3 linked regions of the Homo sapiens genome follow. The protein of the gene in region 1 purifies or fractionates together with the protein of each later gene. This does not show direct contact. Each region holds a gene or a part of one and is shown in the gene's direction. Other genes may lie near its edges.

Region 1 (4,235 bases):
TCCAGCTCTCACTTTGTCTCTGCACCTAGCAGATCCCAAGCTGGGGAATGCCAGTTCTGGCACCAACCTTCCTGCTCCCTGCTGGGGCCTCTGCTCCCCCATCTCTCAGGAGTCGAAAGTGAGAAAGCAAGGTGGGCAGCTCTGCTCCAGGTCCAGGTATCTCCCGCCCACCTCCTGCCCGTCCTCTATCCCACCCCTCCTCTCCATCTCTCCCTGGCGCTGCCATCTCTCATCTAGGCCTCCGTCTCCTCTGTCATTGTCCCCATCCCCTGTAGGTGCCCATCCTTCCCGTCTCCCCTCTGCCATCGGCCTGCCTGTCCCATCCTCTTTCTCCCACCATGTCCCGTTCTCTTCCACGTCTCATGCCCGCACTGCCTTCATCATCATCGCTGTTGTTCTGTGTGTGTTTGTGGTGAGTGCCGCATGGTGGGGGCGTCTCGGCCTCTCTCCTCTCTCTCCACTGTTTTCTCTTTCTGTGTGTCTGTTTCCATTCTATCTCCACCTTCTTCCCTCCGTCTTTTGCTTTTCTATCTCCACTTCTCCACACCCCTCTCTCCCTGCGTCTCTGTGTCTCCCTCTTCCTCTGTCTTGTTTTTTTCCCACCGTCTGCCTCTTCTGTTCCCTGTCACATCCAACTTCCACCGGTTTCTCCAGCTCTCTCCTCAGTTCCTTCTCTCATGAGCACACCTGCCTCTGTGCTCGTATTCCTGGACTCCTCTCTCTCCACTGTCATATCTTCTCATTCATTTTCCCAGTCTCTCTCTGTCTCTTGCTCTCCCCCTCTCTGTCACTCTGTCTCTGTCTCTCTCTTTCTCTCTCTCTCTCTGTGTCTCTCTGTCTGGCTCTCTCTCTGTCTCTCTCTCCATCTCTCTCTCTCTCTCCCCCCCGTCACCCTGTCTCTGTCTCTCTCTGTCTGTGTGTCTCTCTGTCTTTCTCTCTCTCCATCTCTCTCTGTCTCTCTCTCTCTCTCTCTCTCTCTCCCTCTCTCCCTCCTCCCGTGACTCCCTCTCTCAGTCCATCTCTTCCTCCCTCTCTCAGCCCCTTCGTGCCCTTTCCTCTGACACTCCCCACCCTGGTTTCCTGACTCCACCACTAGATCCACCACCTCCAGCAACTGGGAACCCTCCCCTGCCCACCCTGCCCTGGGGTCCCCTCCCAGGATTCCTTCTAGATTATAGCATCTTCCCTGGGCGGGTTCTCATGAACAATTGTGGCTGCTTTTTTGGCCAGACAGGGGAGGGAGGGGATGGGATCAGGGAGTCCTGGAATGGGAACTAGGCAATAAAAAAAAAAAAATGTCAGAAGCAGGGCGGCGGGAGGTGGGGGCAGGGCCAGCTGTCCTTACCAGGGATAAAAGGCTTTGCCAGTGTGACTAGGAAGAGAGACACCTCCCCTCCTTCCTTCATCAAGACATCAAGGAGGGACCTGTGCCCTGCTCCACATCCTCCCACCTGCCGCCCGCAGAGCCTGCAGGCCCCGCCCCCCTCGTCTCTGGTCCCTACCTCTCTGCTGTGTCTTCATGTCCCTGAGGGTCTTGGGCTCTGGGTAAGTGCCCCTTGCTGTCTCTGCCTCTCAGCCCCCGGTTCTGTTGAAGGTTCCTTCTCTCTCACTTTTTCTCTGCATTTGACAGGACCTGGCCCTCAGCCCCTAAAATGTTCCTCCTGCTGACAGCACTTCAAGTCCTGGCTATAGGTAAGAGAACGGTTGGGTATGACACAAGGGGGTCCCCTGGAGACTCTGAGAAGAGATGGGGATGGGTCCTTGGGGCCCCTGGATGCTCATGGTGACCTCATAAGAAAGAGCAGGGAGTGGTTTGGGGGTCATGGTGGGGGAACGTGCTGGAGGCCTAAATTCCTAGTTGTGGAGGTGCTAGGGAATTGTGGGGCCGGGGAGAGAGGTGTTTATAAGGTCTGGTGCAAAATACATAAGGAATCTTAGGGAACTATTAGGTCCTGAGTGGGTCATAGCAGAAAGATCACGGGGCTCTACCTGACTGTGTTAGGAAAGAAACAATGTCAGAAAGATGTTTTGTTGTCAGAGGGAAGGTGGAGAAGGATGATGGGATGGCGGGATCGTGGCATGGGGTGGCGGGATCGTGGCATGGGTGTGTGAGGTGGATGGGGGCAAGTGTGGGGCAAGAGATGGCGGATCCTTGGGGTCCCACTGAGTGGGAACGTTGGGGAGGAGACAGGGAGGTCCTTGAATGTGTTGGGGAAGGACTCATTGGGGGGAAATGTGGCATATTTCGAGAAGTGATCACAGAAATTATGGGAGCATAGAGCTAAGGGTCGTAGATGTAGCAAGGCCCTGGATAAGGTGGCCACGGCACAAAATAAGAGATGCTACGGAGGTGACTTGGGAGGTGAGTCAGAAAGCTCTCCGTGCTGGGGCAATAACGGGGTCAATATTGGGCATGTCTCACCCTGGGTGGGACAGATAGAGGCGGGCAGTTTAGGGGTTAGACCAAAAGGAAGGGGATTTGTCAGTTTTGGAATCCTACAAACTTGTGGAGTGGAGAGTGTTTGCTCATCTACTTTCCCCACCCAATCCTGTCCACTCCTAGCCATGACACAGAGCCAAGAGGATGAGAACAAGATAATTGGTGGCCATACGTGCACCCGGAGCTCCCAGCCGTGGCAGGCGGCCCTGCTGGCGGGTCCCAGGCGCCGCTTCCTCTGCGGAGGCGCCCTGCTTTCAGGCCAGTGGGTCATCACTGCTGCTCACTGCGGCCGCCCGTAAGTGACCCCCTCCCCTGTCCCTGTACCTAGTGAATTCCAGAGTCTAAAGCCCTAGAGCTGAGCTGAGAACCTGGATCTCTGTATAGAACCCAATGTAGTGGCTGGCTCCTGGTTTGAGGTCTAGAGAAGAGCCTGGAACAAAAACACAGCTCGGGATGTGGGCTCCTCCATAAATCTCGAACTCAGCATAGGTTCTGAAAGCAGATGGGCAGCTTGGAACCCATGGACCTGCTGAGAACCGAACATCTGATCCAGTGATTCTTCCAGAGGCCACACATTACATCGAGACCAAGCTTAGCCCATTCCAGATTGGTGGCTGAATTCAGGACCCCGTCTACATTCAGAAACTCAGGACACTACGTAGAACTCAGAGCCCAGTTCAGGACCTGCAGTCTAGCCATAAATCCAGAACTAGAACGCTGCTCACAGCTGGAACATACAACTCTAAGAATAGAGGCAAAACCTGGAGGCTGTTTCACACCCAAGGTTTAGTTCAGAGTCTAGTCTATAGCTCCGCTATGAGCAGACTTCAACCCAGTGTTTGAATCCCAGAATGTGGCGGGTGCGGTGGCTCATGCCTATAATCCTAGCACTTTGGGATGCTGAGGCAGGCAGATCACCTGAGGTCAGGAGTTCGAGACCAGCCTGAGCAACATAGAGAAACCCTGTCTCTACTAAAAATGCAAAATTAGCCAGGCATGGTGGCACATGCCTGTAATCCCAGCCACTCGGGAGGCTGAGGCAGGAGAATCACTTGAACCTGGGAGGCGGAGGTTGCAGTGAGTCAAGATCGCACCATTGCACTCCAGGCTAGGCAACAAGAGCGAAACTCCATATCAATCAATCAATCAATAAATCCCAGAATGCAGATCCTAATCAGAAGCCCCATATAAAACCTAGACCCCTCCTAAATTCTAGATCTGAACTTACAACCCAGACCCCAGCCAAGAGGTCAAAATGCCTATAAGCCATATCTATGCCATAAACAGGTCAGTCTAGAACCTAGAGATCAAAGCTCAGGCCAGAGTCTAGAATATAAAGGCCAGAATGCAAACCAGACTCTAGAATCTTGGATCCGGGCCATAACCTAGAGCTCCAACTAGAACCCAGAGCCCAACCTGAGGTCAAGGGCTAGGGCCAGAGTCCAGAACCAAGAGCCCTATAATCCAATATGAAACAGACCTGTAGAGGCTGGGTGCGGTGGCTCACGCCTGTAATCCCAGCACTTTGGGAGGCTGAGGCGGGAGAATCACTTGAACTGGGAGTTGGAGGTCGAGAGTGAGCTGAGATCGTGCCACTGCACTCCAGCCTAGGTGACAGAGCGAGACTCCATCACAAAAAAAAAATAAATAAATAAATCAAGTCATAATCCAGGTTCGATCTAGAATCCTGATCTTAGCATAGAGTCAAAAGTTTAAGATGTCTAGAACTCAGAACCCAGGCTAGAAACAGAATGGTGCCTACTCCGGAATATCAGTTCCGATTTAGAGCCTAGAC
Region 2 (3,646 bases), on another chromosome or scaffold:
AAGGCAGAGGCTGCGGTGGGGTGGGGGTGGGGGCGGCTTTGGGAGTGCAGACCCAGGAATCAGGTTTTCCCAGGTACCCGAGCCTGGGACAGAAAAGCAGTGAGGATCTGTGCCCCACCCCCACCCTAAGCCTTGGGACCTGAAGACTTCTCCTATTGCTTAGTTGGGAACCTGATTAGGACCCTCCAGGGCAACTTCCTCCTCACTGCCTCTGTGGTGTTTGGGACTATGGTTTGTGACACACCCAGTAGCACCTTCCCATCAGTTCATTTGGAATCTGGATCCAACCAGTATGGATTGGTCTGACCAGTCTCCCAGTCTTGATCAGCAGGGCTGAGCTCTCTTGGGTTGGAGCCTCCTGGGTCTTGAGAGGGCTGTCTTTGGGCTCTGTCTTGTCAAGTGCCCTTTCATTAAGTTGGGAAAACAGAGCTAGCATCTCTTAGGCCGTAGCAGAGCTCTGCTGAGCCAGAGTCCCCAGGTTCAGTTTACTCCGGGAAACTCTGCTTAACAGAGGCCAGTAGCCTGAGGCCAAGCCCTGGAGCAGTGCTGGTAAACCCAGGGAACTGCACACAGGCTGCCCAGCACAGCAGGCCGCCCTGGAGATGGTGATAGTCCCCCCTCTCTACCCACCCCCGACAAATGAACAGGCCCTGCGGCTTTATGCCATCACTTACTTCCCCATTCTCAGAGGTCTTGGAAAACCAGTTTTAACTCATTGCACACCGGGTTCCCTGCAGCGTGGCCTCTTCCAGACCTTCCAATCTGGCGTCCACCTTCTTAGTCTGAGATTACCCAGGACACAGCACACACCTAGTGTACATCTGCAATTTAAGAGTTTCTTGGCCAGGCGCGGTGGCTCATGCCTGTAATCCCAGCACTTTGGGAGGGCGAGGCGGACAGATCACGAGGTCAGGAGATTGAGACCATCCTGGCTAACATGGTGAAACCCCGTCTCTACTAAAAATACAAAAAATTATCCAGCCGTGGTGGCACATGCCTGTAGCCCCAGCTAGTCAGGAGGCTGAGGCAGGAGAATCGCTTGAACCCGGGAGGCAGAGGTTGCAGTGAGCCCAGATCGCACCACTGCACTCCAGCTTGGGCGACTGAGCAAGACTCTGTTTCAAAAAAAAAAGAGTTTAGGAGTCTGGTGTTGGGAATGGTTTTTTTTTTTTTTTTTTTTTTTTTTTTTTTTTTTTTTTTTTGCTAAGAGAAACAAGTGAGCAAAGTTAGAACAGCTGGCATTGTTTTATTTGTTTGTTTGTTGTTGTTTTTTTTTTTTGAGACGGAGTTTTGCTCTTGTTGTCCAGGCTGGAGTGTAATGGCACAATCTCGGCTCGCTGCAACCTCTACCTCCCGGGTTAAAGCGATTCTTCTGCCTCAGCCTCCTGAGTAGCTGGGGTTACGGGCATGTGCCACCACCCCTGGCTAATTTTGTTTATTTAGTAGAGACGGGGTTTCGCCATGTTGGTCAGGCTGGTCTTGAACTCCCGACCTCAGGTGATCCACCCGCCTTGGCCTCCCAAAGTGCTGGGATTACCGGTGTGAGCCACCCTGCCCAGCCTTTCAGCTGGCATTGTTAACAGCACCAGAGTCAGAGCTGGGGCAACTGTCTAGCCCAGCATCTCTCTCTGAGGGTCTGTCCTGGACCCTCCTCCACCCCAGGTTGGGTGAGGGTCCTGAGCCTAGCTTTGCCAGAGTCCTTCTGCCCCACAAGTAATCCTCTTTTAGGGCCTTTGTATTCTTTCTTTCCCCTTTCCAGCATTATAAGCTCCTTGAGGGTAGAGGCCATGCCTTCTTAGTGTTTTCACCACTCAGTGCTTGGTAAAGAGACGGGTCTCCAGTAAGTGTTGGACAAATGAATGAACAATGGATGACTCTCTGGCAAGCCCCACTGGCCTTTTTGCTGTTCTTTTTTTCTTTCTTTCTTTCTTTCTTTTTTTTTTTTTTGAGACGGAGTTTCGCTCTCATTGCCCCGGCTGGAGTGCAATGGCACCATCTCGGCTCACTGCAACCTCCACCTCCGATTCTCCTGTCTCAGCCTCCCGAGTAGCTGGGATTACAGGCGCCCGCCACCACGCCCGGCTATTTTTTGTATTTTTAGTAGAGATGGGGTTTCACCATGTTGGCCAGGCTGGTTGCGAACTCCTGACCTCAGGTGATCCACCCACCTCAGCCTCCCAAAGTGCTGGGATTACAGGTGTGAGCCACCACACCTGGCCTTTTTTTTTTTCTTTTCTTTTTTTTTTTTTTGAGACAGAGTTTCACTCTGGCATGATCTCGGCTCACTGCAACCTCCACCTCCCAGGTTCAAGCTATTCTTGTGCCTCAGCCTCCCAAGTAACAGGGATTACAGGTGCATGCTACCACATCTGGCTGATTTTTGTATTTTTAGTAGAGATGGGGTTTCACCATGTTAGCTAGGCTAGTCTTGAACTCCTGACCTCAAGCGATCTGCCCACCTCGGCCTCCCAAAGTGCTGGGATTACAGGTGTGAGCCACCGTGCCTGGCCCTTTTTGCTGTTCTTAAACACACCAGGATGCTCCCACCATGGGGCCTTTGCCCTGGTTGTTTCCTTGGGCTGGAATATTCTTCTCCAGAAGTCAGCATGGCTCACTGTCTTCCCAGGTCACCTCTCAGTGGGGCCTTCTTGCCACCTTGTTTAAAACTGCACCCACCATCCCACCCCAACTTCCTAATCTCCCCTGCCCTGTGCCGATTTCTTCTCTTCTCGTAGCACACATTGCTCTCTAGCATCTATGTAATTTGCTGATTTACTGTGTTGTCTACTGTCTGTCTCCTCCCACTGGCATATAAGTTTCAAAGGGCAGGTCTCTTTGTTTTGCTCATCAATGTATCTCTAGCCCCTAGAATGGCTCTTGGCACATAGTAAGGCCTCCATCCATGGCACTGAGTGAGTAAGTGAGTGAATGAATACCTGTCTGTTTTGGCAGAGGATCATTCCCATTTTAATAGTGTTAGAATTCTGAGGAGCTGATGAGTGCAAAGAAAAATGGGTGTTGTGCACTTACCGGGTTCAGAGTTCCAGCCACACAGGACAGACAGGAGGAGTGCCTGGGATGACATGTCAGGGACTGAGAAGTAGAGTTTGGGGCCTTGAGTGTGATGCATGGTTCCTCTCCATGTGCCTCAGTTTCCCCACCAGTAAGTGGTCTTTGGCCACTGGGGGTTTACACAGCTTCCCTCATTAGATGAGTCATGAATGTGCTCCTACACACTTAGAGACGGGCTAGGGGCATCGATGCAGAGGTAGGGGCCGAGTGTCCCTAGGAGTAAGGCAGGGGTACAGCCTTGCAGCACTTCTGTCTCCCAGCTCACGGCAGTTAGTGCCAGATATCTGTGGAACCCCATGCTGCGTGCAAGACGTGATGCTAGGTGATGCAGGACCACAGGAGTAAGATCATCGAGTTGGTGAGACAAGCCCTCAGGCCTGAGAGTCTCCTGTGATTTGAACCTTGGCCCTTCCGCTTAAACCTCGCCTGGAACTGTTTGCAGTACTGGGTGTTGTGGGTGGGTTTGTCCACCTTGGAATCTCAGAACAAAGCCACCTCCAGCTCCTCCTGCCCCAGTTTGTGTTTTGCCTTCACCACTCTCCCAGACCCTGAAGCTAAGTAATGAAGGAAGAGG
Region 3 (3,646 bases), on another chromosome or scaffold:
AATCTAAGAGCAAGTATAAAAAAATTCTTTAGACCCATAGTTAAAAAGCAACACTATTCATCTGTATATTTCATGCCTTGACCAGGAATCAGTGCCATGTAGGTATATTTTTTATTTCAGTAGGATGGCAGGCTAATTCCAGGGTCACTGATGGCTAAGAATATTCCATGATTTACCACTAAAAGGAGAAAATAGATTGAAAATAACCAGAGATTCCCCTCTACCTTTGATCAATGAAAGGGTGGTAGAAAAGGGATTATTAAATAAAATTGTTTAAGTGAAGATGATTGTATAATAAGGATTTCCTGCTGTTGAAATAGCTAGGATTTACTAGTTATTTACCTGTATTGTATAACAAAACTTGGTCCTATGAGGATTTGATTCCATCCTTGTCTAGTGCACTCAGTCCAAGTTTGTTTGTTTGTTTGTTTGTTTGTTTTCCTTGAGACGGAGTCTTGCTCTGTCGCCCAGGCTGGAGTGCTGCAATGGCTCAGTCTAGGCTCACTGCAACCTCTGCTTCCTGGGTTCAAGCAATTCTCCTGCCTCAGCCTCCCGAGTAGCTGGGACTACAGGCGCGTGCCACCACACCCAGCTAATTTTTGTATTTTTAGTAGAGACAGGGTTTCACCATGTTGGCCAGGCTGGTCTTGAACTCCTGACGTCAAGTGATCCGCCTGCCTTGGCCTCCAGAATTGCTGGGAGGCCTGTAGGCGTGAGCCCCCGCGCCTGGCCGTCCAAGTTTTTAAGGTCTGCCCAGGGCTCTATTGGTGGTTCCCAACTCTTGTCACCGTACATTTTGCTTTCCTGATCTCATTCATAACTTCAGCTACCACCTCGGAGACCTCTAATTCCTATCCAGACCTCTCTTTTGAGCTTGACTCATATTTTCATCTACCTTCTAAACATTTCCACTTAATATTATAGGTACCTGGAACTCAATGTGTATAAAACTGAACTCTTCATCTTATACCTAAAACTTTCTCCATCTTGGCAAATGGCACTGACGTCCCATCCAGTTGTCCTAGCCAGAAACCTGAAAGTCACTTTAGATGCTCTTCTCTATGGTCACCCACTTTGACCTATCCATTCTACCTCCTACATGGATCTTAGATATAACCTTTCAATTATATGATCCCTTGGTTTGGTTCTTTAACATTCAAAGGACATTTGTGTGGATAAAAGAACACTCAGTTATTTCACTTTATGCTTAAATTTATTAAGCAAAACTAATAATTTTGAAGGTAATTTTTTTCTAACATTTGCCAATAATTATAAGCTAAATTAAATTTCTTTAAACATTTTATTTTATTTTATTTTATTTTTTATTTTGAGATGGAGTCTCACTCTGTCACCCAGGCTAGAGTGCAGTGGCGCGATCTTGGCTCACTGCAACCTCCGCTTCTTGGGTTCAGGCAATTCTCCTGCCTCAGCCTTCCGAGTAGCTGGAATTACAGGTGCCCGCCACCATGCCTGGCTAATTTTTCCCTCCTGAGTTCAAGCGATTCTCCTGCCTCAGCCTCCCAAAGTGTTATTTTTAGTAGTGACGAGGTTTCACCATTTTGGCCAGGCTGTCTTGAACTTCTGTCCTCAGGTGATCCACCTGCCTCTGCCTCCCAAAGTGCTGGGATTACAGGCGTGAGCCACCACTCCCAGCCTTACCTTGACTTTTAAAGCCAACTTTGTTCTTTCTCCAACTTTTCCCTTGGATTGCAAATTCATGCAGAGTCAACAAGTGCACCAAAGAAAATCCCCTGAATTGCGGAAAAAAAAAAAAAAACAGGCATATTACTCTTCAGAAAAATCAAAGCTAGAATGTTTATCTATTAAAATATCTCTCCCACCTAGGCTCAGATCAAATGGCTTCACTGTTGTGGCTCAGAAAGGGGCAGACTCCTTCCTTCCAAATCACCCCATCACAGAACACCCATTGCTAAGTAGCAAGCCAGAGGGTTAGACTGGATGCCCCATAAGAGGAGACTTCAAAGTGTTGAGACCTTCAAGTGTAGCCTGTGGAGGAAAATCTTAATCTGTGGGTGACAAAATAAGTGCTTCAGGACCACTTGCTCCAAATCCACATTCTGCAATACAGTCCAAGAAAAAAGGCAAAGTGGCGAGGCGTGATGGCTCACACCTGTGATTCCAGCAGTCTGGAAGGCCAAGGCGGGAGGACCACAAGGTCAGGAGTTCGAGACCAGCCTAGCCAATGTGGTGAAACCCCATCTCTACTAAAAATACAAAAAAATTAGCCGGGCGTGGTGGCACATGCCTGTAATCCCAGCTACTAGGGGATGTTGAGGCAGGAGAATCGCTTGAACACTGCACCCCAGCCTGGGCGACACAGTGAGACTCCATTAAAAAAAAAAGTGCTGATATATTTGGGGAATGCTGAATAGTTTCACAGGGCTCACTGCAACCTCCGCCTCCCAGGTTCAGGTGCGAAACTACGAGATTTTTTGAAGAAGGAAGCCACTTCACTCGGCTGTTTTTTTTTTTTTTTTTTTGAGACAGTCTCACTCTGTTGCCCAGACTTGAGTGCAGTGGCTTGATCTCAGCTCACCACAAACTCTGCTTCCCAGGCTCAAGCGATTCTTCTGCCTCAGCACCCCCGAGTACCTGGGATTACAGGTGCATGCCGCTACCACCTGGCTAAGTTTTGTATTTTTAGTAGAGACGGGGTTTCACCATATTAGCCAGGCTGGTCTTGAACTGCTGACCTCAAATGATCCACTCTCCTCGGCCTCCCAAAGTGCTATGATTACAAGCGTGAACCACTGTGCCTGGCCTCTAGGCTGAATTTGAAAGACCAGCAACAGTGGGTAAAAGCAAAAGGCCAAAGGATGGTACATTTGGGGAATGCTGTAATAGTTTCACAGGGCTGGCTCACAGTGTCCCTGTGGGGAGAATAGAAGAGAAGACTAAAGTGTAGACAGTGGCCAAACCATGATTTTATTAAATGTATGTGATGAGAAGCTACGAGATTTTTTGAAGGAAGAGATGTTATAGATAACATGAACTAGGGTAGAGTACAAACTGCAAGGGGTAAGTCTTGAGGCAAAGAACTAAACTTAGAAGACATAAAAGGACTTAAAGTAATAACCCCAGCCAGGCATGGAGTCTCATGCCTGTAATCCCAGTGTTTTGCAGGGCCAAGGTGGGAGGATCACTTGCGGCCAGGAGTTTGGGACCAGGCTGGGCACCCTGTCTCTACAAAGAAAAAATTTTTTAAAATTAGCCAGATGTGGTGGCATACCCCTGTCATCCTAAGCTACTCGTGAGGTTGAAGCAGGAGGATCCCTTTAACCCAGGAATTCCAAGTTATAGTGAGCTATAATCATGTCACTGCCTTCCAGCCTGCATGACAGAGCAAGACCCTGTCTCTTTTTTTTTTTTTTTTTTTTTTTTTTTTGAGACGGAGTCTCGCTCTGTCGCCCAGGCTAGAGTGCAGTGGCAGGGTCTCGGCTCACTGCAAGCTCTGCCTCCCGGGTTCACGCCATTCTTCTGCCTCAGCCAACCCAGTAGCTGGGACTACAGGCGCCCGCCACCACACCCGGCTAATTTTTTGTATTTTTAGTAGAGACGGGGTTTCACCGTGTTAGCCAGGATAGTCTCAATCTCCTGACCTCGTGATACGCCCGCCTCGGCCTCC

What was found.
Region 2: the proteins of KLK14 (region 1) and CNNM4 purify together in Homo sapiens (affinity purification with mass spectrometry; one large-scale study listed by BioGRID and IntAct). This does not show direct contact.
Region 3: the proteins of KLK14 (region 1) and ZC3HC1 purify together in Homo sapiens (co-immunoprecipitation; one large-scale study listed by IntAct). This does not show direct contact.

The regions. Positions count from the first base shown.
Region 1 is NC_000019.10:51,080,032-51,084,266, reverse strand, and holds the start of KLK14 (kallikrein-14 preproprotein), read left to right. Parts: upstream 1-1,379; 5' UTR 1,380-1,519; coding exon of another isoform or gene 1,520-1,545; intron 1,546-1,630; coding exon of another isoform or gene 1,631-1,652; coding exon 1,653-1,692; intron 1,693-2,563; coding exon 2,564-2,735; intron 2,736-4,235. UniProt on the Homo sapiens protein: Serine-type endopeptidase with a dual trypsin-like and chymotrypsin-like substrate specificity. May activate/inactivate the proteinase-activated receptors F2R, F2RL1 and F2RL3 and other kallikreins including KLK1, KLK3, KLK5 and KLK11.
Region 2 is NC_000002.12:96,763,865-96,767,510, forward strand, and holds part of CNNM4 (metal transporter CNNM4 precursor), read left to right. Parts: intron 1-3,646. UniProt on the Homo sapiens protein: Probable metal transporter. The interaction with the metal ion chaperone COX11 suggests that it may play a role in sensory neuron functions. May play a role in biomineralization and retinal function.
Region 3 is NC_000007.14:130,034,245-130,037,890, reverse strand, and holds part of ZC3HC1 (zinc finger C3HC-type protein 1), read left to right. Parts: intron 1-3,646. UniProt on the Homo sapiens protein: Required for proper positioning of a substantial amount of TPR at the nuclear basket (NB) through interaction with TPR.